Linked DNA regions of Homo sapiens: regions 2, 3 and 4 are each reported to be linked to region 1. The links are microRNA targets in miRTarBase. Many come from high-throughput screens and were not tested one by one. Region 1 holds a microRNA gene; each other region holds the end of a gene's coding sequence.

Region 1 (8,229 bases):
TGGTTTTACTTTAGCATGGGAGTACCAGAGCCACCCACTTTGCAGAGATCAAGCAAGCTTGGACAATTATTTTATCAGTGGTTACTTTGGCTGACAAAAGTTAAGAGGCTCTATCTTAACATTCCAAGTACTCTGTAAGCACGAGAGAAGGAGCATGATCATGAAAGAGAGGGAGAAGAGAGGCAGAGGAAGGAGGAGGGTGGGGTGAGAGAGAGACTGGGGTGGGGGAGGTGGTGGTGGGGGGAGACAGAGAGAGACAGAGAGACAGAGAGAGACAGAGAGACCTAATGAAGGTTAAGATTGACTTTACCTCACGAGGTCAGGAGATCGAGACCATCCTGGCTAACACGGTGAGACCCCATCTCTACTAAAAATACAAAAATTAGCCGGGCATAGTGGCGGGCGCCTGTAGTCCCAGCTACTCGGGAGGCTAAGGCAGGAGAATGGCGTGAACCCGGGAGGCGGAGCTTGCAGTGAGCCGAGATTGCGGCACTGCACTCCAACCTGGGCGACAGAGCCAGACTCCATCTCGAAAAAAAAAAAAAAAAAAAAAAAAAAAAGATTGACTTTACCACAAACCAGGTGGAAAGGGTCTTGGAATTGGGTTTATTTGAATAAAAGAAAATGTTTACCAAGTGACATTTCCTACATACCTAAGTTTATGAACAATAATTCATACACCCTATAAGAGTTCTTATTACTTGAATAATGAAAAAAATAAACAAAAGAAAACAAATCCTGCTTTACATGTGCAAAAATAGAATCTAAGAATGGAAATAGAAAGATGAAGTGAACTTTCTACTTCTCCCCAAACTCTTCATGCAGGCACACCATGTTTAATTGCTGCTTATTTCTCAGCCTCCCCCAGGATTTTATAATAAATTCTAACATGCACCAGAGTCAGTGTGCACTTCCTCTGTTCTCCCTTTGGGTGGAAGAAATGCTGCTAATGAGGAAGGGCTCAGCTCAGATTTGTTTGATGACCAGAAAAGCTGACTCTTCAATCTTCCTCCCTGTTTTAGCACAGGCACACCTGTTTTTTCACCCTGCCTCGTTCCAGCAGGAATTGCCCAGTACCCCATGTGAACCCAGCGACGCCAAGGCTCCTTAGCCAATGAGAGTTCTTCATTCTTCTGCCTGCGATTTAGGACTTGAATGTTTGCCTGCTGGGCTGCAGCACGTGAAACTCATTACGCAGCTTTGAAACCTGGCCTCCAACACAGAAGGAGAACAGCCTGTTCATGAGGAGAAGTGCTGTTTGTTTCAGCTATGGGTGCCAAAAAAGAAAAAAAAATCAACTGTTCCTTATTTGGCCATTTTAGGGCATAAAATCTCTGTTTTCCTCATTTGCCTCAGGGGCTCATGATCCTGAGCTGGGATCTTAAGGGGTTCAAGGTTAACAAGTTTTTGGCCGGGACGGTGGCTCACGCCTGTAATCCCAGCACTTTCGGAGGATGAGGCAGGTGGATCACAAGGTAAGGAGTTTGAGACCAGCCTGGCCAATATGGTGAAACCCAGTCTCTACTACAAATACAAGAATTAGCTGGGCTTGGTGGTGCACGCCTATAGCCCAGCTACTCGGGAGGCTGAGGCAGAAGAATCGCTGGAACACGGGAGGCGGGGGTTGCAGTGAGCTGAGATCATGCCACTGCACTCCAGCCTGGGTGACAGAGCTAGACTCCGTCTCAAAAATAAAATAAAATAAAATAAAATAAAATAAAAAGAAAAAAGTTTTTATTCTGTTAACAGCTATGACAACTTTATTAGTGACATCTGGGAGCACTATTTATAGTCATTTCCCAAGACTATATGAATGATTCTTCAGTTTTACATCCATTAGTTTCAATGACTTGACATGATCTAAATAATAATTTGAAGAGACAAATAATTATAAATCCTAAGAAGGGACTTTGAAGGGTCCTATGATAAAGTCCCTGGTTTTAAGATGATTATCTCAAGCAAATTAAAATCTCAGCTCACTTTTCTTTAAGATCCCCAGGGAATGAGACACCTTATCTTCCCTAAATATATCTCACTATAAAACTGTTGATCATGGCAGAAAACTGCTCGGTCAGCATAAGTTTTCCCATTAATTTTATGTGTGTCTAACTTTCTAAAGTTAGCCATGCACTTCTACTAAATGGAATGATCCTGATCTGGACTGAAAAGCAACCATGGGCAATTATCATTTTGAATAAATGGAGGAAAATCAATAGTTATTTCTTTTTCCATGGAAATGGAAATACTGAGGCCACGGTGCACTGGCTGCTGTAAAATATGTATCATTAGACTCTCTAAATTCATAAGATATAAATGATTTACAACAATCATAATTCAACAGGAACACAGTCAACTTTCTCAGACTAAATGCTTTTATGCCCATGAATTGGAAGTATGCATGATGGTCTTTGCTTGTACATGTTGCTATTTATTTATCCTGAGTCTTTCTATGTCATTATTGCTTTATGATTTGTCCTTTTTTATAGCTTTTTAGTATCTAGTCGCTTCTATTACATCTTTGTGTCAGGTTGAAAATCAGAGCTAAAAATAAAGCCAGGGAAATCAAACAGTGATGCTTATAATAACAAGTTATTGAGCACCTACTTGCATAGGCTAGGCACTATGCAAGGTTTTCAGAATGACCACAATGAATAAGACACAGGCTGTGCTCTATAGGATCTCACAATCTACAGAAGATGAGAGACTGTGAAGGCAGATGGGAGACTATGAAGGCTCCATTCTACCAAAAGGAGCTGTATGTGGGAGAGGCTGATATAGAGCACAGCAAGAGCATGGAGGATGAGGTGAATGTGGGCCCAGGAGGATACCAGGGTATGAGCTGGAGGGAATACTAGGGATGGGAGTTGTGGTAAGATTACAGAGAGGAGAAGATTTTTAATCTGAGACTTGAAGGAATTTAGGTTTTGGCCAGGTAGTTAGAGTGAGAAGAGAATGAAATTTTAGTAAATGTCAGAAAGAGACAAAACCACATCCAGTAGGGTATATCATTTAAGGGAAACTGTAAGTATCTTGAAATGGATGGGACATACGATCTACATGGTGTTATGTTAGGAGAAGCTATAAAAACAGATGAAAAATATGAAAGGTAGTTAGCAATGAAATAAGGAAGATATTGGGTTCCATCAAGATAACAGGTTCCTATGTTATGCTAGGAACCTATTGTATCTGACCAACAACAGTAAACATTGCTGACTTTGAGACCAAAATGCCAGTCAAACATTGGCAACCCAAATCTTTCTAATCTGAAAAGGGAGCTCAAAATTCTTCCCTGAATGTAAAAGTGTCTAAGAAGTCTTAGAATGGTGGACAGCTCTCCTGTTGGGACCTACTTGTTTACAAGAACTATCCCAGTCCCTGAACAACTAATTCCAATGTAGAAAAGTCTCTTTGCTGAAAAAAGGGAGGTCTTTAGCTTGAATAGGAAAATGGGTGAGATAAACATGACAAGTCAATACCAAGAAACCAGTTTCGCTAAAATTTGCTCTGTTCCCTCAAAGTTATTTTTTTGGCTTCATTATTACCTTTATTGACAAAGTAACTTTTCATTAACAAGCATGACAAATATTTCAGTTACACAGCCAACTGTGTCAAGTCGTTTCATATAATGAAAAAGCAGGGATATAGATTGTGTTGTTTATTCCTCACAAATTATTCTTTAGAGGGAAGACCCTCTAAAAGGCGGAGAAAGCTTTAAACATGTTTACTTGACAGCACCTGAAAAATGATGTCATTACAGTCTAAAGTGAACTGATCATCAATTTGGTATTTGTGTTTTGGAAGGCCTTTCCCTTGACTGTTTGAGGCAGTAGAAAGTTTGCATGATTGGGCTGAACAGATTGTAGCACCCACAGAAGGAAATAAGATGTTCTTGATATACAGTCATGTGTTGCATAATGACACTTTGGTCAATGACAGACCACAAATACAATGGTGGTCCCATAAGGTAGTAATAGAGCTGAAAAAGTCCTATCACCTAGTGACATCTTGATGATTCTGACCCTGTGCAGGCCTAGTTTAATGAGTGTGTTTGTGTCTTCATTTTTAAGAAAAAAGTTTAAAAAATACAAAGATAAAAAATTTTAAAGACAGAAAAAAGCTCATAGAATAAGCAAATGAAGAAAATATTTTTGTATAGCTGCATAATGTGCTTATGTTTTAAGCTAAGTATTATTGCAAAATAGTCTAAAAGTTTTAAAACGTTAAAAAGTTTACAAAGTAAAAAAGTTACAGTCAGCTAAGGTTAATTTAGTTTTGAAGAAATAAAATTTAAAAAATAAATTTAGTATAGCCTAATTATACAGTGTTTATAAAGTTTACAGTAGTATACAAAAATATTCTAGCACTCACTCAGTGACTCACCCAGAGCAACTTCCAGTCCTGCAAGCACCATTCATGGTAAGTGCCCTATTAAGGTGTACTATTTGTATCTTTTATACTATGTTTTTATTGTGTCTTTTCTATGTTTAGATACACAAATACTTACCATCGTGTTACAGTTGCCTACAGTATTCACTACCACATAGTAACATGCTATACAGGTTTGTAGCCTACAAGCAATAGGCTATACTATATAGCCTAGGTGTGTAGTAGGTTATACCTTCTAGGTTTGTATAAGTACACTCTATGATGTTCATGACAAAATCACCTAATGATTCATTTCTGAGGATATAGTAACCCCATCGTTAAGCAATGCATGACAGTATATGTAACCTGTCCAGGGGAATCTTTGCTTCCTTTTCAAGTCACATGGTTTGGACCCAGAACTATTAGTCTTTGAGAGTATATTTCACTCCTTCCTAATTCCAGAGCTGCTTGGATGAAGTTCTACTATGACCTTTAACATACAGTGTTTTTCATCTCTCTTATGGGACAGTTATGGGCCCAATGATGGAAAATTTCATGTCATGGTTATCCCAATGCATTTGATGATGGTGCAATGATCAAAAAAGATGCCAGTGATGACAATTGAACGTCCCTTTGCCTTCCCAGCCTCCTTCATATATTCTCAGGCATAGGATGACAAAGGGAAGTCCACGAGTCACATGAAGAAAGACTGTAGCCATGGGTACGCGATCAGGAAGTCCTCTGCTTGCCTCCACCCCCACCCTCCTTTCCATCACCCTGTCCTATGGGTACATGATCAGGAGGTCCTCTGCTTGCCTCCACCCCCACCCTCCTCTCCATCACCCTGTCCTATGGGTACATGATCAGGAGGTCCTCTGCTTGCCTCCACCCTCACCCTCCTCTCCATCACCCTGTCCTGTGGGTAAATGATCAGGAGGCCCTCTGCTTGCCTCCAACCCCACCCTCCTCTCCATCACCCTGTCCTATGGATACACGATCAGGAGGTCCTCTTCTTGCCTCCAACCCCACCCTCCTCTCCATCGCCCTGTTCTATGGGTACATGATCAGGAGGTCCTCTGCTTGCCTCCATCCCCACGCTCCTCTCCAGCACCCTGTTGTATTTCTTCCTAATATTGTTTCTCCACCATCTTGCAACTAACCACCATCTTCTTCCCAAAGTTTTGCTTGATGACTCATTCCAACTGAATCAATGCTCAACCTATATTTGGCACAGAGTTGGTGCTCAAATAGTTGCTGAATGGAATAATGACCCTCAAACTCTCCAAGGTAACCAAACTTTAGGGGAGCCTTTTTAAAAAAATGAGATAATGCTTCCATGTGTAGGATGAAAGGAGAAAGTATTTTGGAATTATGTCAGCCTAGGTTTGCACCCAGCTGTGCCACTAATTGGATTTAAGGCAAAGGCTTAACCTCTTGGAGGTGCCATTTCATCAACTGTATAAAAGGAAGAAAATAATCCCTATCTTGAAGGGTTTTTGTGAGTATTAAAAGAGATAGTATATATGAAAATGCCTAGCATGGTGCTTGGAACCTAAATAAATGCTCATTCCCTCCTAGTAGTATCCCAATAGTGCCGTCAAGCTGTCCTATATGGTATCTTTAGGATGATAAATAATAGGGAGTAACTAATTTCTGATGTGGTTGAATGTCAGAAGAGATAGAGATAAAACAACAGTCATAGGGAGTGATACTGTTAGGAAATTATAAAGGAAATGAAGACTTCTGTGGTTAATTTCTTGGAGTTTAAGAAGAAATTCACATTTTCCATTAATTATACTTACCAACTGAGTCTAACTGGCAACTACCCCAAAATGAATAAAACAAGCGGGAGTCAAGAGAGAAAAACGGCAGGCATCCTGTCAAAAAATAAAATCTTTGAAATTTCTACACCCTGTGGTTGCATACACATTTTATTAAAGCAGATGGATTACCCAATTTACATAAATTTATATACGTGATGGCAACTCAAGTTGCACAGTGAAACCTATGTAGAGCATCATCCAGCCCTTCTGCACCAGCTATATCTTGTCTTATCACTCCTTCAACTGGACAGGTCCTTAAAAATCATAGCTCTTTGCTGGAGGAAGTATCATTCTTTATTCTCTTCCAGCCTAGATAGCTTCTGTGGTGTGGAAAGGGTCAAATGAGTTAATATCTGTTAAGTGCTTGTACTGATGCTTAGAACTTAGTAAAACCTCAAGAAATCTTAGTTGTTGTTATATTAATTATAATGATAATTATGAATCTTCCAATTCTGTGTTTTCCAGGAGACGATAGGAATTGAATTCTTTCCTTCCCTCCTTTTAATAACATTTTCCTGATTTCTAGAGAAATAAGTGTTCTAGTTTCAAGTGTTTAGCTACTTTTGACTTAAAAGAACTATCCATTTAGAGGCTAATCTACCCAGTTTCTTTTCTTTTCTTTTTAAAAGAGGAATTGAAACAAAGCTAACATGTTACTCAACATGCATAATATTATTAATTGGACTGATTCCTCTTTCTCTCTCTGGCCAAGGTATAGATATAAATATATCTACATCTATGACTATGTCTACATATCTTCCAAAAAAGTCATCAAAACCATTTCAGTATAATTGGCAGGTTTCCTACCAATTTGGTTATTGTTTCCCAAACTAGGAGATAAACTTAATGGTAATATCATATTTCTGGAGTTGCTAAGCAAGCTAGCCTTTGGTCAGATGGTCTCAGAGGAGGACCCCATGAGTATGAACAGCTCTGCTCTGCCTTCATTTTGTTCCTTCCTTAGAGACAGCATTAAGGGAAGATCCCAAATCCTCAAGTTAGATCTCTAGACCCTAGCTTCCTAGGATCAAGCTAGACTTTGAGAGCAGCCTCACTTGTGGCAAATATTGGGAAGTAGGAGTTTGGCAGCTGGTAGCTGGCTGGTGAGAGGCATGTAGGAACTCACCCACTTTTCATGAAACATCAACATCACTTGGTTATATGTCAGCACCCATACCCTGGCAAAGCTGCCTTCTCATAAGAATGTACTCACTGGGGAAAATGCAAAGCAATATCACTTGAAGCACAGCCTCTAAGGGTTGGTTCCTCTGGATTCTCAATAGTTTGTAAAATGGCCAACCAAGAGCAACTACTGTACATTTTCCAGAGAGTTCCTAATTAATGTGTTTCTGAGGACATAAATTCGGCTTTTAAGCACATACTCCCCAGGCCATTCTAGCACTGTGTATGGCAATTAGACTGCTGGCTTAATACTATCAGCAAAGTTTCAAATAGACAACACCACAAACCCTCCTGGAAATTTAGCACAAGCACTTGTTAATGGAACCAAGCACAACATTGGCTTAGCTATGTCTTTCCTGCAGAGTGAATGGCATGCTGGTATTTTCAGCTTCTTTTTCCCCCATTTATCAAACTCTAATGAAAAAAAATTAAGTAATACTTTAGTGAAGGTCAAGTGGGGTGAGATTAGTGGTACTATGGTTAAAAATGGAAATCTCTGGATAGCAGGTATGTGTTATGTCCGCAAATTGTCTCAATATTTTCTTAATTACCTTTCAGGACACAATAGAAAAAAATGGTCTTAAGGGGGAAAATTAGGAATAAAAAGTGAAACTAAGGTAGTGACACAAGGCTGGGCAAAGAAGAGCAGACAAGGAGTTTAGAGTTCAGGTTCAGATAAAAGCTCTACCAAGGTAATTCACGTAATGAATTTAGTCAGAACACGTGACTGTGATTTTTTTTACAAGTGGCTTTCCTATCTGCAAGATGAAAGCAATGCGCTAAGTGATGCTCATTGTCTGAATTCCTGTAGCACTTTATATTACTAAAGGGCACTTAACATCTACTGCTTTGTACTATT
Region 2 (8,229 bases), not on the chromosome of region 1:
AAGGGACTGCATCTCCCAGCATGCCTTGGGGGCTTGGGAAGGCTTTCACTTCCTGGGGGTGGGAAAAGCAGGGCCTGAGGTACAACCAGGAAAAGGCCCGGAGCTACAACCGGGAAACACAGGATGTAAGGTTCCGTGGGACTGTAGTCTTGGTTAACGAGGTTTTTCTCATTGTTTTATTTTTTTTTTTTGAGATGGAGTTTCGCTCTTGTTGCCCAGGCTGGAGTGCAATGGCGCGATCTCGGCTCACACTGCAACCTCCGCCTCCTGGGTTCAAGCGATTCTCCTGCCTCAGCCTCCCAAGTAGCTGGGGTTACAGGCGTGCGCCACCGGGGCCCGTCTAATTTTGTATTTTTAGTAGAGACAGGGTTTCTCCATGTTGGTCAGGCTGGTCTTGAACTCCCGACCTCAGGTGATCCGCCTGCCTCGGCCTCCCAAAGTGCTGGGATTATAGGCGTGAGCCACCGCGCCCCGCCCATTGTTTTGTTCTAGTAGCATTACTTCTTTTCAGTAAACCCGCGTTTTCCCCTTCTCTGTCCAAATAACAGTCACTCTTCAAGGAAAGTACTTAATTCTGTAAAATCAATGAGAAGCGCAAACGTGCATTGTCTAATCCTCTAAACAACTTATAAGTTATGTGGTATATACTGGTTATTAGATTATCTCTAATTTACAGATTAAGAAATTGAGTCATCTTAGTCATTCAGATGTCCCCAAATCATAATTTTGTGATCATCTTGTGTTACAGAAAGGAAAACCAATTCTGATATACATGAATTTAACTCAGAAAATGACTCCTCCAACGGATGTGGTCGCCTCCAGTAATACAAGCAGAGAAAGGAGGGAGTTCAATGAAATTAAAATTGTCTTTTATCTTTCCTTTCCCCCAACCATTCCAGCCAGACTCTCAAGTTCTCTACATGGCTGTGCAACCCCATCACAGACACTTCAGTGAAGATTCAGAACTGCAGCAGAAAAAAGTAGGATTATAACTAGTTCTTCCTTACCCTCCTAAAAGTTCTTAGATGATTTGCTAATTTACCACGGAGAATGCCAAGTAGCTGTTTGCTCTTACAGGAAATGTGATTTCCAGAGAATACACCGTAAGCTTCAGCTCATGTGAAGGGTATCTTCTGAAGCTCGTTTCCATGAAACTCGCCCTGTTAAATATCTCCCTTCCCGTGATTCGTGAGAGAGCTAGTCTAAAAACAAAAAACCTCCCCTTTGCTCCAGGTCGGAGATAATTTTCCTCTAGTTGCTGACAGTTTGGTGACCAGGCATTACTGAAAATGTGCACGTTGAACCAGCAGCAGATTTGTGTTTAAGAATAAACTGACAAATTTTCACTTCCTACCCTGAAATATTTAGAAAGGCAACCCAAAACTACAAGGGATAATAAATGTTAACTCTCAAATTATGGACTTTGAGTAAAGACATCCCAGTCCTTTTTCCCAGTGTGCTTTCCAGAGTAACTTAAGGTAGGAGTCCGATGTTCCAAATGATTACAATAATTTAGGTAATGTAAATGGGTGGACTTATTTCTTGATGGAGCACATTCCACCTCTACATGCAGCCCCTAATCATTTCTAGGCAATGGCTGTCATGTAGACCTATTATTGCCAGATCTTCCAATTTTCTCAAGAAAAGCCAAAAGTGAAGATTTTTATCTGTCAATGTTAAATACAGGTTTAAACTTAAAAAAAAAAAAAGTACTGTCAAAACAAAGCACATAGGTAGGTAACAAATCTGTAGGTAACTCATCCATAATCTCTGGCCTAATGATCCAGCTATTCTATAGCCTCAAAGCTAAGAGGACCAAAGAGTGGAAAAATTAAGTCCTATATATGCATCAAGCCATGCTGCTCACATTTCTCCCATTGGTAGACTGAAATCTGCTGTTTCTCCTGAAGAAGTCTCTTGGGGTTCACCAGCTTTCATATGTAGATACTGACAAGCTAATAACTATTCAGAGAATATCCTGGTTCTTCCTTCAAACGACGAAGTGTCAGACACATTTCATTTTTAACTTGTCTGGGATGGTCTGTGGACTTAACTGGTCTGATCACGACCATAACAGCTGGTGGTCACCTTTGCTTTTCCGACCACCAAATTACTGCCCTTGATCATGTTCAGTTTCCCTCTATCCCACTTTCAGAGACAACCACAAGCTTCAGCAACTAGGCTCAAGCTTGCATGCATACACTTTAATCCCTCTATAATTAAAAATACCAGATAATACTTTGCTGATCAATAAACAAAGGTATTTATTCAGCACCCATGTGCCAAGCACTGTGCTAGGCACTGTGGTGGATACAAAAATTAAGACATGGTCCCTGCCCTTAAGGAGCTTACATTCTCATGAGGGAGACAAGACTAATATACATGTACCAGCTAGGAACAGTACAAGACAATATATAATTTGGCGTTAAGAATGTCATACAGACTTGAAGCTTTATAGGGATTCAGAGACAGACAATAAAATAGGCCTTAGAGTCAAGATTTTTTGAGGAATCAGGAACAAGGCCAGGCCTTGAAGAACTGAAGAGACTTAAGTTGAGGTCCCTGTTAGGTAGAAGTGGGAGTAAAGTTAAGAAAAAAACAAGTATGCATATAATGTAGGGGCTTACTAAGAAGTCACTGTGGATTTCTGAGCAGAGGAGTGACTTGATCATACAAGATTCAACAATTTTATTGCAAACTCATAAAATATGTTTAAGTAGCCTGGAGACATCCTACAGAACACAGAAAATAATGGCAGGATCATGACTAACAACATAGCTGGAACTCACCTGTCAAAGAAAAACAGCTACAACATAAAACACTGGCAGGATAGATGACAATAGTTCTAGGAAGCCCATTACTCAACATGGCAATAGCTCCAATGCTTCCTTATTTTCAGAGGCCCCAGAGACTGAGGGTTTCATTATCCAGACCCAGGACTTAGGTGTTCTGCTTCTAGAGACTACACAAGAGGTATGAAAGATATGAGGACATACAAGAGTGACACAGAAAAAACAAGAGGAAGAGAGAAACAAATAGAAATCCATACTGGAAAAAAACGCACCGAAATGTATATAAAATGTATCTCCTAAGGAGATGCAATTTGTATGTCCATTTATTTTTAAATGAACGTATACCGTATTTCCATAACAAACAAAAAACACTATGCTTTAGTCAAGTGTGCTTTTCAGTATCACTAGAAGAATCCAGGAATCCCTCAAATTATGTGTAAGGTTAGTTGGTTGGTCTCAAAATTCCATGTATCAAATCTCACTTTCAGTTTATTTGCATTGTGAAAGGGAAGTGTGTTCTGGAAGAACTAAGATTGAGAGGTAAATTGGGGAGAAAGTAAGGACTTTTCCTTATGTCCATTCAAGCACAGGTATCCTGTCAAGCAACACAGGGCTAGGAATGGTGGTTGTAGGGCTGGCCAAACTGATGAGAGGTGATTGAAATTACCACTGCTCAGGACACAGTGTAGTCAGTCACACAGCAGGGCATCCTGCCACTGGGAACTTGCACCCTATAAAATCGGAGAAATCAAAAACCCTGTAACTGCCTGCCTTTAGGCTGTATATTCAAAATGTATTTCCTGTTTTACCTAGTCATTAATGTATACAGATATTCCCTACTTAAATGAACAGTGAGTTAACAGATTTTAGGATTAGTATTTTACCACAAAAATGCCATTCATTGCATAACTCCAACTCAGGGAGAACAAATAAAACTAGAGAAACTCATTTCTAGCCCAAAAACAATTTAAAAAAAAAAAACAAAAAACAAAATTCTAACAAACGTCACTGATAAAGCGTTCTTGAGCAAAAACAAGATAGGATAAAACTTAAGAATCCCATAAGGATTATACATGCTAAGATTGGCTTTTAAACTTTGAAAACCTTTTTTAAACTGCTTAAAAAGCAGTCCCATAGACCCAGGTTCCATAAAATTGCAACAATCATATTCAAAGTTATTAGCAACATGTAAAATACTTAAATACCATTAGTTATGCAATTCCATTTAAAGACATTAAAACACTTTTCACTTCAAAAACAATCTGAAAATTCCTATTTAGGATGTCCATTATGTTTAAGCCTATGTCTATCTTTCTGAGGACAATGTCACATTCTGGAAAGCTACCCCTTAACAAAGGTTGAATGAACTACTACTAACAATCCACTTTTGGGAAAGGGACCTGTGCCTACATGCCGTTAATGAAAGCTGTTTGGAATCATCTCTTTCCTAGGGGTGCTCTTTCGACTCTTCCAGGTTCTGGAAGTTACTTAAGCAGTGTGAATGCAAACCTGCTGAGACTCAGGGAAGACTTAATATTTAGGGGAAGTATTTATTGAACCACAGCATTAAGTGTCTACTTCTGTGGACCCTGTCTAATTTCTACCTGATTGGGAAGGTAATCCAGGTACTTGGCTCTGAAAAGGTTCTTGAATTTTCACGAAGCAAATGACTAATGTTAACTAGCCAAAGACCCTGGAAGAACATATGCCTAGCTAACTGGTATCTGTTCGTCTGGCTCCAAAGTCAACATTCTAACTTGGTTTCCAAATCTAATGAAAATCTGAGACCCTGTCTCTATTTTTTTTTTTTAATTAAAAAAACAAAAAACAAAACAAAACAAAAAAGGCAAAAAAAAAAAAAATGGCTGGGCATGGTGGCTCATGCCTGTCATCCTAGCACTTTGGGAGGCTGAGGTGGGAGGATTGCTTGAGTCCAGGAGTTCAAGACCAGCCTGGGCAACACAGTGAGACCCCATCTGTATTTAAAAAAAAATTTTTAATTAAAACTTTTTTAAAAATAAAAGAAAAAAAAAGTCTAATGAAAATCTTCCTAGTTTTACAAAAATGTGGCCCTTACCAATCTTTCCCTGGATACTTCTTAATGGAGAAATGTAAGTAAAGCAAATAAGATGCCACATTAGCTTACAGCTGACTTTCCTATAGCTGAATTCCTACTGCTACAAGAACCATCCTCCCTCCTTTTTTTTCATGTTGTCTGACAAAGTTTGGCAAAACCCAGATGCAAAACAACCTATCCAGATGACAGAAATAAATCATCTTCCTGCTGAATCTTGCATTCTGAGTTAGTAAGATGTACACAACCACAGCATGACAGCCACGTATTTCCAATCCTGAAATGAAATCCAGTTAAAAGTTGTGAAGACACAGGAAGAACAGCTGTGTAAACTGTTCTGAGCTCAGATCTACGCAGGAGGGCTACAATACATTATCAGAATTTAAAAGATCACACACAAAAGCTTTAATACAGTGAGAGAAAAATGGAATTCCGTTTTATTTTGTCCTCTCTGAAACTTCCATTTACACCATGGCCTCATCTATCAAGAAGAGGAAGAAAAGGCTCTGCCTTATACCATAAAAATCAAGTACTCATGTACTTGTTAGAGGTGGCAGGATATTTGTTTCTCCAGTTTTTTGGCTCTAAGAAATTACACTTTCAGTACCAGTGTAGTGAGGAACCACTGGCAAACTGTTGGAAATGTCTTCTGGATTAGTCAGTGTACCATTTCATAAAGTGCTTCTGGAGTTAAAATCTGCCAAGCTGTCAAAAGTGTCCACACTTTTGCAACAAAGGATAAAAGATCCCAGTGGGTATCACCGAGTCCTTCCCAGCTGGGTCTCATTATTGGCACTGCTGCTTTAACCTCCAAGCCGCTGGCCCTCACCCCAGGCGAAGCCTCCTGGCCGTTCCTCAGGTAGTGGATTGTAATTTGGATCCTCATCTGGTGTATCAAAAATAGCTTTCCTAAAAGACAAGCAACAGATATAATTTGGTCCCAGAGTCATCTCAGGTCCAAAGTACTACAAGGTCAGTTCAGGCCCCATAGGGTTTCCACCAATAGGTAAGCATTACACCTGCCTGCCAATTAAACAGTTAACATATTGTAAGAGCATCTATAATTATTAACATTTACATTAGCTTTTATCTTTTACTGATTTTTACTACAAAAGCAATCCAAATCATAATAATTACAGAGAAGGAGGAAATAGAGATGAGCAAAATATCCTCAATTTCCAGAGGTAACTATTGTCAATGTTTTAGTTATTCTTTGGGAATTTTTACATTATGTCATTTTACAAAAGTTAGATCACACTACATGTTTTGTAACCTGACTTTCACATATTTATCATTAATGTTTCCCCATAACCAAGGTATCACCCAAGTGTGCATCAACAGGTGAATAAACAAAATACGGTACACACATATAATAGAATTTTTTTTTTTTTTTTTTGAGACGGGAGTCTCACTCTGTCGCCCAGGCTGGAGTGCCATGGTGCGATCTCGGCTCACTGCAACCTCCGCCTCCCGGATTCAAGCAATTCTCCTGCCTCAGCCTCCCGAGTAGCTGGGATTACAGGCGCCCGCCACCACGCCCGGCTGATTTTTGTATTTTTAGGAGGGAAGGTTTTCATCATGTTGGCCAGACTGGTCTCGAACTCCTGAACTCAGGTGATCTGCCTGCCTCGGCTTCCCAAAATGCTGGGATTACAGGCATGAGCCACTGCACCTAGTCAACATGGTGAAACCCTGTCTCCACCAAAAATACAAAAATTAGCCTGGCGTGGTGGCGCATGCCTGTAATCCCAGCTACTACTCAGGCGGCTGAGGCAGAAGAATCACTTGAACCTGGGAGGCACAGGTTACAGTGAGCTGAGACTGCTCCATTGCACTCCAGCCTGGGCGACAGAGCAAGACTGTCTCAAAAAAAAGGAAGGAAATTCAGGCACATGGTACAACATGGATGAACCTTGAGGACTTTACGCTAAATGAAATAAGAAATAAGCCAGACAAAAAAGGACAAATATTGTATGATTCCACTTAGGTACAGAGTAGTCAAATTCAGAGAAAGAAAATAGAATGGTGATGGCTGGGGTGGGGAGTTGTTTAATGAGTACAGAGTTGTAGTTCTGTAGGATGAAGAGAGTTCTATGGATGGTGGTGATGGCAGCAAAACAGTATGAATATACTTAATGCCACTGAACATTTAAAATGAGTTAAGATGGTGAATTTTATGTTAGGTATTATTTTACCACAAAATTTTTAAAAAATTAACAAGGTATCCCAAGAAAAATTACTGCAGAACATAGGAGGGGATAGTAAATGTCCAAAAGACTCCCTAAGTACTATGATGTAGTAATTCAAAACCTCACTAAAGAAGGAACCATTAAAGCAGCATCCTCAATTTGCACTTATATTTCTACTTGTAATCCTCCACAGTTGATAAAATTAGAAATGTATCTGAAAACTTCTGATTTATACTGGAGTCAGAAAATAGTATAATTCAAAATGAGTTTTTAAAATTCTTACAAATTAACAATAAAAACAAACATACCAACAGAAAAAATGGGCAAAGGGCTGAATATGCAATTCAAAAAGGAAATCCATGTGGTCAATAAACGTGAGAATGTTTGCTCTCACAATAATCAAAGGAAAGTATATTAGAAACTGAGATCCCGGCAGGTGTGGTGGCTCATGCCTGTAATCCCAGCACTTTGGGAGGCCGAGGAGGGTGGATCACCTGAGGTCAGGAGTTCAAGACCAGCCTGACCAACATGGCAAAACCCTATCTCTACTAAAAATACAAAATTAGCCGGGTGTGGTGGCGCATGCCTATGATCCCAGCTACTAGGGAGGCTGACGCAGGAGAATCGCTTGAACCCAGGAGGCGGAGGTTGCAGTGAGCCGAGATTGAGCCACTGCACTCAAGCCTGGGTGACAGAGCAAGAATCCGTTTCAAAAAACAGCAACGACAACAAAAACAAAACTGAGATCCCTTCTACTGCCCAAACATTAGCAGGATGGGGGTGGGGGCACAGCCTGGTATAGGGAGTCAAGAGCCCCATCAGACCATGCACACATGGAGGTGGCCTGACGAGATGTTAGCCCGAGTAGGATGGGGAGGCATCCCTGTAAGAGGGCAGCCTGGTCTGGGGAATCTGAGGGTGAGTGAGATAAGCAAGGCATCCATATGGGAGAGGTGGAGACTATCCCGAAAGACTGGTTACATATGAGGGGTAATTAGGTAGGTAAAACATTAATCATAATAAGAATCAGGTTAGGACAGATGGAAAGGGCAGATGGAAAGGAGTGGTACATTCATACAACCAAATAATATTCAGCAATAAAAAGGAACAAATTACCAATAAATACAAGAACACAGATGAGTCTCAAAAACATTATGTTGAATGAAAGAAGCCT
Region 3 (8,229 bases), not on the chromosome of region 1:
GCTTTGGCTATAGGAGGGTAGCATGAATCTCACACAGCCCCATCCTCCAGGAGCAAGGAAGGGGGAAAGCCACAAATACAGATGATAGCTGAGTCACACTTGTTTATAGGGGATCAAAGAAGGCTTTGGGAGGGAGGTGACATTAGAGGTGACTTTGAAGGATTAGAGGAATGTTGCAGACAGATGTAGGGATAGAAGTAGGTGTAAGCCGAGTTTCTCGTGGGACAGCTCCAGTTGGGTTACGGAATACCAAGGAGTTTTGTGTGAGCAAAACCTGCAGGGCTATGAGGATGGGCAGAGAGAAGCAGCTAAGGATATGGGGTTTAGTCCATTAGAGAAAAAAGAGGAGGCCAGCCCCTAAGAAGTTCCCAGTATTGGGCATGTACAGAACACTGAGGTACCAGTAGCTGCTCTAGGTGCTACAGATGTAGTGGGGGCCAGCACAAAGGTCTATCTCAGGGAGCTGACATTCTAATTGGGGAAACAAGCAATAAACAAGGAAACCAATGAACAAGAAGATTGTGGAGGGTGCTAAGTGCTGTTAGGAAAACCTCACAGGGTGCCGAGATCAGCATGACTGGGAGGCTGGGGGCTCTTTTCATTGTGGAGTCCTGAGGACAAGAAGCCAGTCACAGAAGTTCCAGAGGAAAAGAGAGCAACACATAAAGACAGCAAGCGCAAGGCTGCCAAGGGACAGAGAAGCTGGGTGTGTCTGAGGAACTCAGAGGAGACTGGAGGACCTGACTCCAGAAGAGGCCAGGAGAGAAAGCAGGTGAGGCCAAGGATGCTGGCGGGCGCTGTGCAACAGGACCTGGAGACCAAGCCATGAGTTTGAATTTTATTATAAGAGTAATGGAAGACCCCAAAAGAATGTAAGCAGAATGAGACATGACTTTCATTGCTTTTGACTACTCTGCTGGCTAGATGGAGAGTGGGTTGGAGGGGAGGGAGCAAAGGTGGAAACAGGGACACCAGTCTGGAGGCGACTGCAGTCATCCAGGAGAGAGCCCTGCACGAGGGCGGGAGTGGCGGAGGTGGGAGAGGTGCATGGATTCTAACTGGACTTTGAAAAGTTATGCAGACAGGGTATTTTCTGGCTGATTGGATGCAGTGGATGAAGAAAAGAGAAGGATCCAGGATTACATCAGGAGCTTTGGCCTGAGCAACCTGAAGGACAGACGTGCCATGACCAACATGGGAAGATGAGCAGGTTCTCTAGGAAACACCAAAGGGTGAGTTATGGTGGTGTTACTTTTCAAATACCATGGTGGCATCAAGTAGGTATTTGGCTAAATGTACACAATCATCTGTGTACTACCTTCATGTGACACTGGAACAATTATTTATATAATAATTTTATTTATGTCAATTTTAAGTAGGCTGACATTAGCTCCATGCTAACCAATCTTATCCATAACATCAAGGGTTTTTTAGACTTCTAGTATTTTTTTTTTTTTCTGAATACAATAAGTAATGACAACCATAGTGCTCAAGTCTCCCTGTAATTCCACCCTGACATTCTCTCCTTCCCCAGTCTCCAGCAGAGTCTGGGTACCTAGCATGAAGAAACTTGTACTGGGCATTGGCCTTGACACCCAGGAACCTCTGAGGGCCTTCAAAGGGACCACAGTGGGGCACAATGGGAAAGAGACCTTGTCCAATAGCTCTGCAAGGCCCCGGGGGGCAGCCACCTAACTGCCTCAACCGGCCCTGCTCAGTCCTCTGCTGGGTGGAGGGTTCGCAGAGTGGAGCCCACCACCCTTTCCTGAGGTTCATGCGCCCTCTGGTGGTAGGGTTCCCCATCTCTGTGCACTGGGGGCTTCCTTGTTTCCAGGCTAAACAGAAGACAGAGACCCTCTGCCTCGGATTCACCGAAGGGAGGGGATAAATGGTCAGACTAACTTTAAGCTCCAGACCAAGGAATAGATGCTTCTGAGGCTTGGACTCAGGCTGGGCTGGCCAGGCAAGGACCACCACAGGTCACACCAAAAGAAGAAGGAGTGTGGTGCGCAGGAGAGGGGACTTTTGTTTTGTATAGAAGGTCACCAATGCAGAGAAAAGCAATTGATGGCCATATGCAAATAGAGCAATTTACCTTCAATGGGTATTTTCAAATGAAAATAAAAAACATTCCAATTTAAACATTTTAAAATCAAGAGCAGGAAACATCAGGCTGTGCTGAATAAATCCAACACATAATGGAAAACGTACTTCAGTTCCTATATTACAGCCAGTTATAGGAGAGAGGCGGGGGCGGCGGCCAGCAACAGACAGGAGAGTCACGCTCTTACAGAGAAAACAACCGGAGAGAGGGTGGGTGAGGGGCTGGCCAGAGACAGACACTGCCTAGGCTGACATCCAGATCCTCACACAGGCACACGCGCACAAACACACACACACACACACACACACACACACACACACACGACAAGCTGCACAGATATTCCTTCTGTTGTTCCTTCATCCTTTTCTCAATGAACAAACTGTCTTTAGATGAGAATATATTATTGCTAAACAGACACTTGCAGACCAGTGTGCAAGGGAGTCTCACATAGAAAGCTGTGGCAGGACTCGGAGAAGGGGCCTGTGAATTTCATCTCAGAAGAAAAAGTGGCAGAAAAGGGTAATCCAGGCAGAGGGAACAGCATGAGAAAATACCTGAAAGCATTCCAAGACCTGAACACTAACTTCTCAAAAAGGAAGTTTTCATCACCTCTAAAAATGAATTCAATGTAATTTTATTAAGAGCAGGAAATCTAGACCTTCCTCTAATGACAATCCAATAGTCCACCCTCGCTGTTGTCAAAAAAAAAAAAAAGTTCAACCCCAAAATTAACAGTAATTAGCCTGAGATATTGTAAATGTGGCTCTATAGTCTGAAATTTAATGGCATCTTTTGTCAAAAATAGTCTTTTTTCCACTTTAGTCTCATGACTACAATACTATAGTGCTATCCCTATAGTATTTACTACAGTACAGTCATCAAAAATATCTGAAAAAAACTCTTAGACCTTGTGAAATAGTGCATCCATCCACTTCTATAAAATTAGGAGCCACGCAAAGATCTAACAGAGTGCTGCTTGCCCAGATCCAGAACAGAGAAAGTTAGTGTTAAGGACTTGGAATGTGAACACATTGTTTGTAGTGCTATCCATTCCTCTCCTGAGATTTTCACTTACTACTGGAAATCCTTAACCAATTATAATAGCTTTTCTCTCTTTATTTTCAAAATGACTTCCTTTGCTTTGCTTAGACACTCTGTGCTCTCTTTTTTTTGGGGGGTGGGGGGAGCGGGTAACCATAGTTCATCTAAATGCAGCTTTTTCTGAACCTTAAAGATAGAATCCCGTTTTTAATGAACTGAAGTAGCAAAATCACCTTTTTCATTATTTTGGGAAATAGCTATTGCCAAAGTGAAGGTGTAGATAATGCCTAGTCTTGTTACATAATGGGGATGTGGTTTGCAGAATTTTCTTTATAAAATTGTAGTTTCAAGGGATGTCAGTGTTTATGCCACTTTTCCAGTTCCAAAATGATTCCATTCCATTGTAGAAATTTGAAGTATGTAACTTGAAATCCTTAATAAAATTTGGATTTAATTTTATTTAAAAAATAAAAGAAAATACCTGAAAGCTGAAGAGAACATAGACATTCGAGACATGGCAAAAAGTTATGAGAGAGTGGGCCCAAGGATATCTGGGGAAAAGAAAACTGGAAGAGGGTGGGAGCTGAGCCCTGGAGTCTGTGTCTTGAACCAATGAGCTCCCCATGTGGTCCAGAGAAGGTGCCTGCCTTGCCCTGGGGAAAACCAAATCCAAGACACAATGTCCATCCCATGATGTGGGCTGGAAATCAGGCACCTGTTGGGGCTGGGCTGATGGTGAACCAGGCTCCAGGGAGAACACTGAAGATTTCTTGCTGAAATCAAGGCAAAAAATTTCAATGCAGTCATCCCCCTGTTTCTGGCCCCAGTACCATCTTACGCCTGCAAAAATTACATTTTGTCCTGGTTCCAAGACACGGTAAAAACTGAACTCAGTGCAACCTTAGCAATGAGGTTATTGGCAAGGAGCTGGCTAGGTCTCCGAAGACTCCTCCTGTTGCGTGGGGTTCTCTTGAGGCAAAGGGGTTTAGAGCTTTTTCTCCAAGCCCAATACCCAAAGGGGGGTGTACACAAAGCACTGCTCCATCATGAATGCATCTCTCTCCTTCTGCAACTTTCAGGGACCAGGACCTAGGCATGTGTCATGTTACAGATCCGTCCAGGTGAGTCTTCCCCTGGTTAAGGTTTCTTCCTCTAAGCTAGGGAAGAGGTCAAGAAACTACACTAAATGTAAAAGAAGCCTGGCCAGAAGGATGAATCCACATAAAAAGGAATGGTAATGCCAAAAGCACAGGCAACAGAAGCAAAAGCAGATGAATTGAATTACAACAAAATTAAACACTTCTGCATACCAAGGGGCACAATCCACATGGTCACACCGTAGAAAAGCAACGTAGACAGTAAGGAAAATAGTTACAAATCATAGCTGATAAGGGTTTAATATCCAGAATATATAAAGAACTTCTACAACTTGACACTCCAATTAAAAAATAGCCAAAGAACTTGAATAGACATTTCTCCAAAAAAGATATACAAACGGCCAATAAGCTTGTGAAAATATGCTCAAAATCACCACTCATTAGAGAAATGAAAATCAAAGCAACAGTAAGATTCACCTGACACCCATTAGGATAGCTACAAAAAACACAGAAACTAAGTGATGGGGAGAATGTAGAGAAATTGGAACCCTTGTGCATTGCTGGTAGGAATGTAAAATGATGTCACTGTTTTGGTGACACACAGAAAAGAAAATGGTTCTTCAAACAATTAAAAATAGAATTACTAAGTGATCCAGCAATTTCATTTCTGAGTATATGCCCAAAAAACTGAAAACGGGGTCTCAAAGAGCTATTTGTATACTCATGGATACAGGAATATTCACCATAGTCAAATGGTGGAAACGACCCAGGTGTTCATCAAGAAATGAATGACTAAGCAAAATGTGGTGATCTATACAATCAAATATTATCTGGCCTTAAAAAGGAAAGAAATTCTGACACATGCTACAACATGGATTAGTCTTGAGGATGTTATGCTGAGTAAAATAAGCCAGACACAAAGGACAAATACTGTATGATAGCACTTATATGAGGTCCCTAGAGAAGTTAAATTTATAGAGACAGAAAGTAGAATGGTTGCTTCCAGGGGCTGGGTAGAAGGAGCAATGGGGAATTTTTACTGGGGACAAAGTTTCAGTTTTGCAAGGTGAAAAATTCTCAAGATTGTTTTCACAAAAATGTGAATATACTTAACACTACTGAACTGTACACTTACAAGTGATTACGATGGTAAATTTTGTGTGTATTTCACCACAAGAAATACATGAATAAATAAGTGGTGTGCATGTGAACAGGAAGGCCTCTGAGTCTGCACCTGGATTTTCTTGCCCACTAATTAGTACTTTTCCTTTAGGCTCCTGATCGTGTTAGAATGCCCAGCTGAAAGACCTGATACTCCAGGAGATCTTTCCCAACTCCCCCAGCAGAGCCAATGCTTCTGTCAAGGCATGACTGCTGTCAGGGAGAAGCATGAGAGTTTTGGTCCGCTGTGTTTCTTTGCTCATTCATCCATTCATTCACTCATTCATGTGTTCACTTACTCCCCCAATGAATAAATGTTCTCTGAATGCTCCTCAGTGCCAGCTATGTCACTGAGGCTCCAAATAGACACATGAGGTAGACTGTCTTGGCCTTGTCCACAGTCAGGAGGGGAAACCAAGTCCACTAAAACTGACCGCACATTACAAAACCAGGACAGAGAGGCTCTGCGCTGTGGGAGCCTACAGAGGAGATAATTGACTAGTGTGGGAGTGGTTGCAGTCAAGTGGGCCTTCTGCGAGAACGTGGTGCCTGAGGTAAGCCCTGAAGGACCCATAAGGCTTAGGCAGGCAGGGAGAGGTGGGAGAGTGTATTTCAGACCGAAAGAGTTCTGGATAGGGGCAAAGAAAAGTAGTCTTTCCTTCATATCCTTGCGTTTCACATCTGCAGGTTCAACCAATGGCAGATTAAAAATATGCAGGAAAAAAATAACAGATCAAAATAATACAAAGAAAAGATACAATATAACAGCTATTTACATAGCACTGACATTGTATTAGGTGTTACAAATAATCGAGAGATGACTTAAAGTATGGGAGGATGTGCATAGGTTATATTCAAATACGACGTCATTTTGTATCAGGGACTTGAACATCCACAAATTTTGGTATCCATGGGGACTCCTGAAAGCAATCCCTGATGAATACTGAGGGACAACCATATGGTGAAAAGAGAGGGATTAATGAAGGGAGGGAGAGAATGTGAACAGCAGAGTTGAGCAATAACCACAGATAGTTCAAAGGAATTTTTTAACTCATAGGTGCCTCTAATGCAGATATTAACTTGAAGAGTCTCCCCACCACCAGCAGTTTTCAGGGCCTCTTTAGGAATGCTCTTCATAGGGGAGGGATGGCCAGAGCTGCCAGCTACCTCTGTCTCCAGGTGGACAAATGCCAGTTGCCTTGCTCCTCACTCCCTGCCCTGGAATGGACCAGAAGCCGGGTCTATCTCCTTGGTCCACAGAAGACTGCAGAGATCCCATCCTGGCTAGCAGACAGACAGATCAATCTACAGAGCAGGAGCTGGAGCATCTGATGGGGGAGGAATAACCCTGAGTGGGCACCCTTCTACCCCCTCCCAACAACACTATCACATCCCTTGGCCTGTCGTGGGAGACAGACACTGGGTACCTGATCTAAATGTCTATAGTCGGTGCTCGAAGTACATGCGTGTGCAGGGAAAAAGGAAGCATTCAGAAGACATGTTAGAAAAAGCGGGGGCCAGAACCAAGGGAGGGGTCGCTATGAGCAAAAGAGCCAGACTCCTGGCAGACAGCTGCCCCCTTCTCCCTTCCTCAGACTTAGGCAGGCCGAAGCTCTCGGAAGCCCAGCCAACGCAGTCTGTACTCTCCACAAACTTGGGCTAAACTTGGAGGCGGAATCTTGGATGTTTAGGCCAAAAACCCAGGGTCAGAGAGGCTTTTGGGAGAATTCAGGGAACATGAGGGTAATGCATGTAAATCCGGAGATCTAAATAGCTCCTCTAGCTTCTGGGATCAAGGCCAAGGCCAATGCTGGAGAGGCAGTTGGGCCCCAGGTCTTATGGCTCGTCAGCAGCAGCCAGCTCAGGGCTGTTCATCCCATCAGACAGGTAGTCATCTTCATTGTTCTGTTTCATCTTGGTTTCCAGAACTGTGATGCGCTGCTTGAGCTTCTGCTGGGCCCCCGTGTACTCAGCCAGCAGGCGGCCAAAGCGAGTGTACAAGGTTTCCATGTTGGTCTCCAGCTGCCCTAGCTTCTCCTGCACGTCGACCTCCATGCTGGTTGCCACTTCGTTCTCATCCAGCAGTCCCTCCTTCATGAGGATCTCCCGACCCCTCTCTTCTAGGACTTTCTTGGCATCAGGGTACTCAGTCACAGCTTCCATAAGATCATCCTTGGACAAGCAGAAGAGATCTGAGTAGCCCAGGCTGCGGATATTAGCTGTGCGTCGATTGCCCATTTTACTGCCCTTAATGTTAAGGATACTGATCTCGCCAAAGCAGCTTCCAGCCGACAGCAGAGCATACTGAGTCACACCATCATCAGCCACCACTGCCAGTTTGCCCTCCTTAATGATGTACATCTCCTTGCCGATGTCCCCTTTGCGGCAAATGTAATCCCCAGGACTGAAGACCTGAGGACGGAGTTTCAGTACCAGCTCTACCAGCAGGCCAGCCTCACAATCATGGAAGATGCGCACTTTCTTGAGTGTGGACAAGTGGACATTGATGGCTATCTCAGCCCTGAGCTTGGCTGGCAGATTCTTGAGAATTTCTCGCTCATCCACTGTCTTCTTATTGGTCCACAAGTAGTCAAACCACCTAATGACCTTGGCTTCCATCCCCTTGCTGACCTTTCGGAACTGCATGTAGTGTTTCACGGCATCGATCTTAGCCTGGAACTCTGCCCGGGTGGCATTCATGTTGGAGATCATGGAGCCCACATTTCCCACGATGGTGGCAAAGATGAGGACGCCAATCAGGAAGTCAAAGATGACAAATAGGTACTCCTCATCCTTTACAGGGGGTGGTGTCTCCCCAATGGTAGT
Region 4 (5,000 bases), not on the chromosome of region 1:
TATCTTGTAGAAGCCATGTGCTATTTCATGTCAAAATACAGGAAAAGATACTGCATTCTGCCAAATGCTCAGTCCAGAAAGTAGAAGACCATGATTGACTTCAGATTTTTTTTTTTTTTGCCTCAGTAAACAGTACAGAAAATGATCTGAGAATGAAATTATTTTTTAAAAGCCCAAAGGAGAAAAAGAATAACAAGATATCATAGTCTAGCATTTACAGGCCAAGGTCAAAAACCTGGGTGCAATGGATCCCATCAGCATGTAATTACATAGATTTTATATCCCTTCTGCAGTTAAAATATTTCATCTTATCTTAAAACACATTGCTGTGGTCTGGAGACCAGCAGTCTCTCCCCCACATCTCTCTTCATTCTTGCTTGTTTCAGTTTCTTATCTTATTCCTCTCTGCCCTTTCTGTAAAGAAAGCAAAGTTATCTTCTCATGACTACGTGATTAAGGGGTATATATAAGGATGAATTATACATAAAGATCCATGTAAATAATTTATGTTAAAATATTTAAGTTAAACAATTTCGATAGAAAAAGTTCATTTCTATGGAAAGACAGAATTGCAAATCAACAGTGTTTTTACATATATACATACATGTATAAATTCACAGAAAGGGTTTTTTAAGTTGACCTAGTGGTCTTTATGTATCATAGTCATTTTCTAAAGCTGAGAATCTATAGTAGATAATAGTATGCAAATAACAAGAAGTTTGATTCTAATAAAATTGGTAAGAATGAAGAAGCAACATGATCCACTACAGATGTCAATACAGTCTGAAGAATAGGAACTGGTTGGCCACAGTTCATATACTAATACATTCTTGGAGAATACAAAATTTAAGAATGAAAACATTAAGACATTCTTGACTTTTGAGTTAATTTTAGCTTATAAATATCATGTGCTTAATCTTAGACCCACTAACACAAATATCATATGATATAGGAAATCTTCATTAATCTATTCTGCATTATAGCAAAGATACCTATAAAACCCAAGACGCTTGTTCCCTAGAAGTTTACTTGCTCCGGTTGGTGCTTGCTACTCAGGTTGTATCTAGTCCAGAAAGATCATCAGAAATTTATCACAGACAATATGCTCAGATTAAGAACTTAAGGCTTTGAATATAACCAGAAAACAAATAAAAGCAACCACCCTGTTTCCAAAAAGTAAGGACAAGGAAAAGTAAAACAGAATTGTGAACTCAAAAGTATTTTTGACAAAAGTTTTTAGAAGGCATCAAAGAATCTTTAACAACCCTGCAGTACCACAAACTTTATCGTTTTCTTTATATATTTATAACTAGAACAAGTGTTCTTAAAAAAAAAAAATCCAAACGTGTGCGTATATATATATGGGGAAAGGGTACATTTAAAAGGTTAGTTTCTGTAAAAAGTTTAATAATTTTTAAAAAAATTGGGGTAAGTTAAGTCACCTAGTGAAGATAAGTACACAAACCTGATGTCAAATTAAACTTCAGGGAAAACAAAATGTGCTTTTTCTATCCATTTTCTTTGTTAAAGTAAAAATGTTCTTGATAGTTATTTAAAATCCAAGGAATGATGCCCCTTCCCATTTCCCTTCCTTATACTCTGCAATTCGAATTACCGTATCACATCTAGAAAGTTAATAATTATCTATATTCTTGTGGGAAGGGGCCTTCATATTAAATTTTCAGTATAAAACCATACCCTAAAGAGTTTTATTGCTTGCATACATGATGACACTGTGATGCCATTATTACAAAAGTGGCTGGTGTTTTTTATTGAGCCCCACTTAAAACCAAGATAAAAGTCTGCACTATATTTCATACTTAACACGCCAAATGGTAGGCTTTCAGCAAAAGCAAAATTTAAGCTTAAAATATTGAAATGTTTTATAATGAATAGAAATTTTGTCAAGGAAGTACTTTTTAAAGTTTGGAGGAAGGGCACTTTAAAGAAAAGATGACTTGGAAAGCACCAAATGAGTGAAAATAAAGAATTAAGACCCACAGGGAACGTTGGTTTTAATGGGAAAGCAACCAATGATATTTTTAGGTTGTCATGACTGCTCAAGTATGTTGGAAGGGAAAAGGCATTGATTATTCTTATCATCAATCACACTTTGAGGTCTCTTGGTTGAATTGTTTAATAAATGGCTAAGGGTATTACTTTACCTTTCATTGAGTAAAAACATCAGTGATTCTTTAATAAGAGAGAAGCGGGTAAGGCTGTTTCACTGCTTCTCTTTGCGTTTAGCTGAAGAATGTGGGGTGGAAAGTGAATATGGTGACCGGATAACCAGAAATTCTCTTCTAGTATTAATGCTTCTCATTTAAAAAATTAAAGATAATGACTGTTAAGAGCATGATAATAAACATTATCTTTACATGAGTATTCTTTCAATGATCTAAGTTAAATAACATTGATATTTATTGAGCCAAAACTTAAGTGTGTCCATGTTACTTCTGTTTTGGTAGGGAAAGTGTAGTCTTCTTGCTTTTAAAAATAGTTTTCAAAAATAATCTGACTTATAAATCTTCCCATTGGCCCATACATTACCATTGTTCTAGTCACACTTACAAAAGTCCTCTTCCCCAGTTAATCATTCTGTATTTCCATTGCTTCTCTTTTCTTGAGATTAAGAAAACCAAAGCATCATCTATAGCTACAGTTTAATTTTCCAAAAAACCACTCTGAGTATACATCACACACATACCCCGCTGGCCATTAAAAAAGAGAAGCAATGTAAATTTTCTTCTAGTCTTTCCCTGATTTAATAGGGCCTAAGAAGCTACTTTTATCTCTTTTTGGCTCCATCTATTTGGTTTAATGTTAATGATCATGGCTGATAATCCTTTTATGGAGGAAGGGAACCTATTATGTCAGCAATAATTGGTTCACTTGCTCCTTTGGGGTGGAAAAAATAAGATATTTCTTAAAGTAACAAGGCCTGAATAAATGTGTGGCAGTCTCAAATTCTATTCTATATCTAAGGTGTAATCCTTACATACTAAAGATAGTGGGATCATTCTTGTAGATTTCTAGCAGACTGGTACATTAAAAAGTGACAATGTTTGGGGTATGACAGTATAAAAAAAGGTTTAATTTGAGAAAAAGGATTAAGTTAAATAGTAAACTTAGTGTGAGATTTTAATCACAAGTACAAAAGAGTGAAGAGCAGCCTTCATGACAAGGAATCATGTGACCAGCCCCCACCCCAAACATAGGTTATCACATGTGGATTTTGTTTCATTCCGACAAAGGAAAAGGCCCATACAGTTATCTTAAGTGTTCATTATATAGAGACCTTATTTAACCATGCTCGATTATCTTACGGAAAAGAAAAACATTACGATAAATGTGGTTTCCACATATCCTAGTTCTGTAAAAGGTCAGGTGTCTCATAAAGTTTGGGTTTTGGTGAAAATGTTTGTACATGCTGATGTTAACTACTGCAATAATTATAGGATTGTAAACGGTAAAATAACCTGTATGACTTTGACTGTCCCAGTGACCAAAATGCACTTTAATCTTAGAATAATCAAGACTGAAGCATTAACTGAACCCTCATCTTATATTAATAGCACCTTCTAAGAGAGGCACTGTTTTAAATAGGCACAGAAACAAAAAATGGTACTTTAAAAGTACTGTTGGAATTCACAAATATATCCCATGCCACATAAATTACCGCTTATTATAAAAATATCAATACCCTCAAATGCCAATCAGCAAAACATAAATCACCAAAACATTTCTTCAGTTTAGAACATTGCTCAATTCCACGATAAACCATGCTTTATATTTAAAAAATAAATTAGAGATGAATGTGAACCTAAAAGCATGTATAATATATATATTTAATACTATATATACATAATTGCTATATACTTAAGACATTCTTAGGAGTATTTCTACAAAAACAAGTTATCTTTTCTTTATAAATCGGAAATCTGAACACCAACAATTTGTCCTTTTTCTTTTGTTTTAAAAGAACAGACATCATTTATGCAGCTAGAGATTTATAAACTAAATTAAATAAGTTAATACAATAGCCTCAACTGTCCCTGTATTTTTCACCATGGATCTATTTTGGCAACATGGAGGTATATCTTTCAAACTGTTCCAGGTCCTACATGTGAAAGAGAAGAAGACATGAAAGGATTTCTTAAATGGAAGTGCTCATTCTAACCTGACGGTGACAGAATCAATTGATACACCATTTCTTCAAGACAAAAAAGCACATATTCAAGGAATAGCTCAAAAAATGCTCCAGTTTTCACATTATTTCAAAACTTTATCGGTAGAATGACTCTGCACACTAATTTCACTAAGAGTACATAAACATAGGAAAATAGTCCTCAAAAGATGCATTTATGGGCCTATATTTTTCAACATAAAGTGCTAGCAGATGTGTAAGAAGAGCTGGGAATGTCTTGAGCTGTAAGTCCTGAGACCTCCACACCATGGCTGGTCCTGGAGGAGTTCAGCATTCTGATTTTTTCTTAGGTTCAGGATGATCATCCAAGGTGGCTGGATGCTCATTTGGACCACCTGGTGTCTCACCTGTGACAGCTAAAAGGATGACTTTCAGCCACTTCTGCTTCAGTTCCTCACTGTCTGCAGCAAAGCTGTGCACGGACTTAGACTGGGTCAGTTTGAAACTGTGTGGCAGGTCTGCGCTCCTTGGCATTTCATCCACCACATAGCCCAGAAGTGGAATGGTGGCCTGGGCTCTGACGTCCTAAAGAAAAGACATCAGACATTAAAAGCAGGTGATGTATTCGCTTGTTAAGTGTGTCCCTTGCTCCTACTAAACCTCTCTTCCTACCACTGTCCCAAACAGACTTAAACGGTGAGTTCTCCATGGGCACAGAGGGCAATCCCATTGCTTAGTACAGAGCCTGTACGTGAGGCCACTGATAATGTTAGCTGAATGAATGAGAGCTGACACCCAAATCAGCTAGGACTCAGAGACACTACACCCTCCTCTCTGTGAAAAGAGCCTTTCA

The links. The annotated mature microRNA hsa-miR-204-3p reads GCUGGGAAGGCAAAGGGACGU and lies in region 1 at 4,991-5,011, opposite strand. An mRNA with a match to its seed (bases 2 to 7 or 8) in the 3' UTR can be bound and repressed. Matches are read on the target gene's strand: a 7mer-m8 pairs with bases 2 to 8, a 7mer-A1 pairs with bases 2 to 7 and ends in A, and an 8mer does both.
Region 2: the mRNA of DERL2 is a reported target of hsa-miR-204-3p. Seed matches in the 3' UTR shown: 7mer-m8 at 3,509-3,515.
Region 3: miRTarBase lists CNGA2 as a target of hsa-miR-204-3p. Seed matches in the 3' UTR shown: 7mer-A1 at 7,189-7,195.
Region 4: the mRNA of FGD4 is a reported target of hsa-miR-204-3p. Seed matches in the 3' UTR shown: 7mer-m8 at 4,414-4,420.

What each region holds. Positions count from the first base shown.
Region 1 is chr9:70,805,003-70,813,231 of GRCh38, forward strand. MIR204 (microRNA 204) reads right to left here and starts at 5,082; the gene lies at 4,973-5,082. All of the region lies in intron 6 of TRPM3 (transient receptor potential cation channel subfamily M member 3), which reads right to left.
Region 2 is chr17:5,469,015-5,477,243 of GRCh38, forward strand. DERL2 (derlin 2) reads right to left here. Exons shown (of 7, transcript NM_016041.5): 7 at 2,240-5,775. The coding sequence ends at 5,670. It overlaps DHX33-DT (DHX33 divergent transcript), which reads left to right and starts at 78. Exons shown (of 3, transcript NR_135644.1): 1 at 78-125; 2 at 900-980; 3 at 1,078-1,346. RefSeq lists an enhancer at 1-61.
Region 3 is chrX:151,743,509-151,751,737 of GRCh38, reverse strand. It overlaps CNGA2 (cyclic nucleotide gated channel subunit alpha 2), which reads right to left. Exons shown (of 7, transcript NM_005140.3): 7 at 6,174-8,229. The coding sequence ends at 7,240. Among named protein-coding and RNA genes, the nearest start is that of CNGA2, 13 kb to the right of the region's middle.
Region 4 is chr12:32,640,008-32,645,007 of GRCh38, reverse strand. It overlaps FGD4 (FYVE, RhoGEF and PH domain containing 4), which reads right to left. Exons shown (of 17, transcript NM_001370298.3): 17 at 1-4,732. The coding sequence ends at 4,475. Among named protein-coding and RNA genes, the nearest start is that of DNM1L, 37 kb to the left of the region's middle.